2 separate regions of the Homo sapiens genome follow, and region 1 is linked to region 2. A link means that fine-mapping ties the variant in region 2 to the expression of a gene that starts in the linked region. Tissue or cell type: whole blood. Region 2 holds a variant in brackets; the other region holds the start of a gene. Each region is shown on its reference strand, or each on the opposite one.

Region 1 (2,908 bases), not on the chromosome of region 2:
GAAAGAAAGAAAGAAAGAAAGAGAGAGAGAAAGGAAAGAAAGAAAGAAAGAAAGAAAGAAAGAAAGAAAGAAAGAAAGAAAGAAATTCTGACACATGCCACAACATGGATGGAAGTGAGGACACTGTGCTAACTAAAGTAAGACTGTCACAAAAAGACATATAATGTATGATTCCACTTATACGATGTCCTTAGAGTAGTCTAATTTAGAGACGAATAGTGAATGCCAAAGGCTAGGAGGAGGAAAGAATGGGGAGCTAGTGTTTACTGGGTATGGAGTTTCCATTTGAGAAGATGAAAAAGTCCTGGAGACGGTTGGTGGTTGCACAAGAATGTGAATGTACTTGGTGCCACAGAACTACACTTGGAAACAGTTAAGATGGTAAGTTTTACGTTATGTGTATTTTACCACAATTAAGAAAAATTAATTATGGGTAGTTGAGAGAATGTGGTCTTCCTCAACTTACGGTAGGAAAAGTCAAGAATAACTTAAAGGCTGATAATAGCATTTCAAAGATCGAAACTGATCAGAGAGGCTATTCCATCAGGCTAGACTAGCTCAATAGTGACTTTTTCCAGAAGGAGAACCACTGGGAAGAGAGAACTGAGCAGTGAGGACAGCGAACTTGTTAAGTTTAGTTTTCTGCTTTAACGAGGGGCTTCCGGAGTCCTTTAATAAGATCCCCTCCCAAAAGTGGCACCCTGGGTCTCTCTGTCTCCCAGTCGTGTCCCCGCCCGCCGGGCCAGAGCAATGGACTCCCAGGAAGCAGGGGGGGCGCGGGCGGGGCGCGGGCGGGGCGGGTGGGGGAAGGGCAAGGACTCACTCTTCCTTTCCTCCTCCGCCGGGGCCCGCCCCGAGCCCTGGCCCCACCCCGGCTCTCTGGATCCGCCTCCTCCTCCCGACCCCGCCCCGGCACCTTGGCCCCGCCTTCCACTCGGCCCCGCCCCGGCGTCCTGGCCCCGCCTCCGCCGCCCGGCCCCGCCCCGCTCCCGGCGGACTGCGAGCAGGAAGAGCGCAGTGGCTCTGCCGACGCCGCGTTCAGAAAGGTGTGGAGGGGGCTGGGGGCGCAGGTCGCGATCAGGCTGCGTCTCCTGCCCGCCCAGCCACCTGCGGCCCTGGCCCCACCCTGCCGCTTTGGGCCGCTCGGGCTCGCGGCCGCCCCCGCCCCGAGCGCCGGCTCGGGGCTCTGCTGCTCTGGCCTGGGAGGCGGGGCCGGCTGCGCGGCGTCATGCATATGCATGAGCGGCGCGGCGGCGGCTCCATTGTGCCCTCGGAGCGGGCGGCGGCGCGATGGCGCGGGTGGCGGCGGCCCCGGGGCGGCGGGCGGCGCGGAGGGCGGGCTGAGCGCATGGAGCGGCGCGGGCCGGGGGCCGCCACGGCGAGGGGCCGGGCCAGGCCGGGCGGAGGTGAGCGGGGTCCTGGGGGTGGCCCCTGGCAACGCCGCCAGCAGGCAGGTGTGGGCCGGCGGGGGCAGGCAGGTGCGGCAGGTGCGGGCCGGCAGGTGCGGGCGGGCAGGCAGGTGTAGCTGGTCGCCCGGGGCGCCCCGGTTCCGCTGCGGCGCCACGGTAGGGTTCACAGCTGGGCTGGGGCTAGAGGCTCTGCCGCCCACCTGCCGGCACCTGCCACGCGTGCGTCGTGGTCTTGGGCAGGCTCGGCCCCGTGGGCGTCAGGGTCATCCAGCCCTCCCCTGAGTCTTTGTTGGAGGCTGGCCGAGGGGTGTAAGCGGCGCTCGGGGTTCTCCTGAGCGATGAAGGCTGGCCGGGCCTTCGCTCCAACCTGATCGTTCCTAGCTTTGGGGCCAGGCAGTCTCACCTACATGGTACGCCCCTCCGCTCCTACTTACGTGCCCACCAGCACGGCGATGTGGGGGCCGTCTGAGGCCGTCACCTGCTCGCGGAGGAGCTGTTCCGCTCCTGGGCTGAACGACGCTGAGCGGCCAGCCCCCAGCTGCCAGTTTTGATGGGGACACCCCTTTCCAAACTGGACATACTGAAGCTCAGGCGTGAGGATGCCCTGCTCCCCTGAGGTGCCTTGTCTTCCCTAGTGCCAGGTGTCCTTCACCGCGGCACCCCCACCCGGTGCCTTGTTTACCCCTCCACCTACCGTGTCTCTCCTCCCATTCCCTGGACCCTCTGCCCTGCAGTGTTCTGCCTCTCCTTCTCCCTAGGGTACCCTCTTTCCAGTATTACAGAACATCCATGGTGGTGTCTTTAATTTGTGTCATCGCAGATTTCACAGGGACACACACGGAACATGTGACTTGGTCTGAGACCGTGGTGATTACGGATAGGATGGACACAGACTCACCACCAAGTTCTGGCAAGCTAGAACCAGAGGGCATCCCTTGATGCTTAGTGTGGAAACAGGAGAAGTGAAGGAATCTTAACTTCCAGAGGTACTGACCTCTAGCCCTTGTCATGCCCAGGGGATAGTTACAAGCTGGAAGTGTAAATGAAGAGAACAAGCAGGTGACAGTTGCCGGTTGTAGATTTCTGAAGGACAGGCCTAAGATGTTTGGGGAGCATCCTGATTATTGGGATTGAGCTCCCAAGGGCTGATGACATGAAGGTGGTCATGTGTCCTCAGTCCTAGGATGCTACCAGATATCCATCTTACACATTGTAAACTGATGCCAGGTTAAGGTTGTCCCTTCAGCTGTTCACTGAAATGTCTCATGCCTGGGCCATTGCTTATTCCTGGACTTTTTGATGAACTCTGCATCCTGACTTAGCCCCACGCTTAGACATTTTAGTACTGTGGCCTTACAGGTAGAGGGGGCAGGACTTTCAGCTACCTGTATATGTGAGTACCCCACTTTTTGCTACCAAGGACCCCGCTCCTGCAACATTCCACAGCCATCATTTCTTCAATACCCTTTGACTCCATTGTCACCTGGGTTGGATCCTGA
Region 2 (2,908 bases):
GGAGTACTCTTAGGATCAAACCTTGGAAGAGAGGTAGAAGCAGCAGGGTTGGCATGGAGAGGGGTCTAGCTGTGATGTAGACCCAGCCCAGCAGTCTTAGCTGATTCCATGGGGAGCTCTGGAGCTAAAAAGGCCTGGCAGGGATGTCTTGCATTGGGCCAACATTTCCAGTCCTTTTAACCCTAATCAGTCATTTGACTGTGGGCTGCCCCTAGAAGGATATGACTTTTAGGGGAGACGGTTCTCTATGGCTGAGACTGAGACAGCCCCAGAAGGGGCTGACAGCAAAAGCTGCACACTCCACAGCTGTGGCCATAGATCTTCCTAGTGACTCTCTCAATGTCACATGGCTCAGAAGTGGTAAGGAATCTAGGATTTCTGACGCCTACTTAAGAGAGTTTCTGTCTTTTACGTGCTGCCTCTCAGCTCATGTGACTACCCAGTGGGACAAGCACCAAGCTTGCCAGTACGTTCTCCAGGACTTGTTCTTGGCAGCAGTGGCTGAGCTATGTGGACTTTATGTGAAAGTAATATTTTTGAAAAACCTCAGGTGGCCTAGGTTTAGCGGAGTAAGTTCCAGGATTGGCTGAGGCAAAGAATTTCTGGCATGGAGTCATTGCTAATTCACTAAGTTCTCTCAGACAATTTATTATAAATCTGAAGGCACGCTGAACTGGCCAGCTTGCTTCCCATTTTTGTTCATTTCCAGGGTGAATACTAAGTTTGGCATCTCACTGGCTCTCTTTGCTGCCTGAGTATGTCAGTCTTGATCTAAAAATAGCCTGAATCCTCCTAGGGTCAATGTGGGTTGACTAGGGTTCAATTTTTCTGGAACCCTGAGGAGGTTGGAGAGGAGGATGAAGGGAATCATGAAGAAGAGAAAGAAGAGATTTTATTTGCGGTAGACATGGATGGCTTTGAGTATTACAAAACAAGAGAAATTGCTTCAGGAAGGCTAGCTTAACATAGAAGAGGTTGTTCATTAACCTTTAAGAAAGCAAAGAATTGTTATGCAGCTGTGTAGGCACAGTAGGAGAGAGACAATGATTGATGGCTGAGGAGATGGCATGGAGGTAAAGCAAAACATGGTCCAGGAGTCAAAAGCTCTGGATTCTAGCTCTTACTCTGCTTCTTAACTAGAATGCACCTTTGGGTCAAAGTCTTCATCTCCCTTGGTTTTAGTATCTCCATGTTTAAAATGGGTCTGATTATGTCAAATTTGCCTTATTCCGTTGATTGTTACAGGGAATAAATGAAGCAATGGATGTAAGTGTGTGAAGTTCCATATAAAAAAGAATGAATTTCTTAGGCCC[T/C]TTCATACAAATTCCAGGACTTTGGGCAATTTTTGGGACTCTGTGATACATACAAAACGGATAGTAGAGTTTGGAAGATCATATATCCTGGAGGTTCTAATTATCTTGGTAATGGTAGGAGTCTTGACTTAGCTACTACTTTGGAAGTCCTCTTGATGTTGAGAATTCACTGGGCCCTTATAGGCGGCTTCTGTCTGTCTCGACTCTTAGACAAAATGAAGTTCGTTTGAAGCAACTGAAAGTTCAGGAAATGAGTCAGGATGACTAAGAGTTGCTAGTGGTGCAACATGATGTGGATCCAACAAAAATATATTGTTGGTGTAGAAATTTGTTAAGGTTTGAGGACTAACTCACATTTTGTGAGAACTGAATCAAGTAAAATGATATTTTGAATTAAAATTCTCTACAAATTCCTGATGAAGACTCATGTATGAGGAGACCGTAATATTTAATGGAAGAGATCAGAAACAGGACTCATCTGGTCTATTGTAGTAGTCTTCCAACTCATTTTACTATGTCTAGTTTTTCCTGTTTCAGTTATTCTATATATTCTTAAAAGAGTTAACTTTCTAAATCAGTTTGTGCCATTTTCCCTGCTTACCTCTGTTGCCTTTAGACTAAGGTCTCAGCCTTGCATATACCAGAATCTAGGGCAGGGATCTTGTCTGCTGTGTTCACTGCTGTGGCTGCATTATCTAGCATGATTCCTAGCATATAGTAAGTGCCCAGTAATACTCATTCATTAATTAATAAAGGTTATACATGATTCAGCCTTAATCTATACTTCCAATTACTTTTCCTAACCATCTTCCCTAGCTCCACATGTCTACCTAGACAAGTTGCTCACAGTTCCCCAAATTCGTTTGGTTATCTCAATCCATGTCTTTGGCATACGTGTCTTGCTGCCTAGAATACCGTCCCACATTTCCATTCCATTTTGTTCTACAATGCTCACATTGTGTATGCTGTAGGGCAGTTGTTTCCATGTCTGTCTCTCTTTCTTACAAGATATTATCTTATTCATCTTTGTATCAGTCTAGTTCCTCGATGTAATAGGTACTTAATTAATGTGTGTCAAATGGTCAAATGGAAGTATTTTATGATAAACCAAATAGCTTAATGATTTGTTTACCATATTCTCTCTGTGGGCTATAACTAAAGAACTGGAAGCAAGAGTGAAAAGTTAAACACCACAGGTACTAGGCCAAGAAATATTCCTTTTGTTTTCAGTTTTCAAGATGAGAACCAGTGATATGTTTCATTGTTACAAATCTTTAGACTCAACCACTTATCACAAACCTAAATTCTGGTGCTAATAAGGTTCTTTCTGTAAAACATCTTCTGTTATTTGGGAGAAAACAACTCTCTTCTGAGGATATTGACTGCACTACCAAGTTCTGGCTCAATATTTTACACATTCCTAAAATGAACCAGTTGAAAGAAGGTGATAACTCTTCTTTTAAACTTTTATTTTAATTTCAAGGGTATACGTGCAGGTTTGTTGCATAGGTATTAAGTCTAGCATCCATTAGTTATTTTTCCTGATACTCTCCCTCCTCCTACCTTCCACCTTCAAGTAGGCTCCAGTGTCTGTT

Evidence for each region. PIP is the estimated chance that this variant, and not a neighbour inherited with it, causes the effect.
Region 1: ZMIZ2 starts here. The variant in region 2 is the best candidate, but not a certain one, in a credible set for the expression of ZMIZ2 in whole blood (TOPMed, PIP 0.72).

What each region holds. Positions count from the first base shown.
Region 1 is chr7:44,747,586-44,750,493 of GRCh38, forward strand. It overlaps ZMIZ2 (zinc finger MIZ-type containing 2), which reads left to right and starts at 1,262. Exons shown (of 19, transcript NM_031449.4): 1 at 1,262-1,406. RefSeq lists silencers at 757-1,286, 1,397-1,506, 1,517-1,566.
Region 2 is chr12:19,710,690-19,713,597 of GRCh38, forward strand. No RefSeq gene overlaps it. Among named protein-coding and RNA genes, the nearest start is that of AEBP2, 270 kb to the left of the region's middle. The variant T/C (reference allele first, on the strand shown) is at 1,314.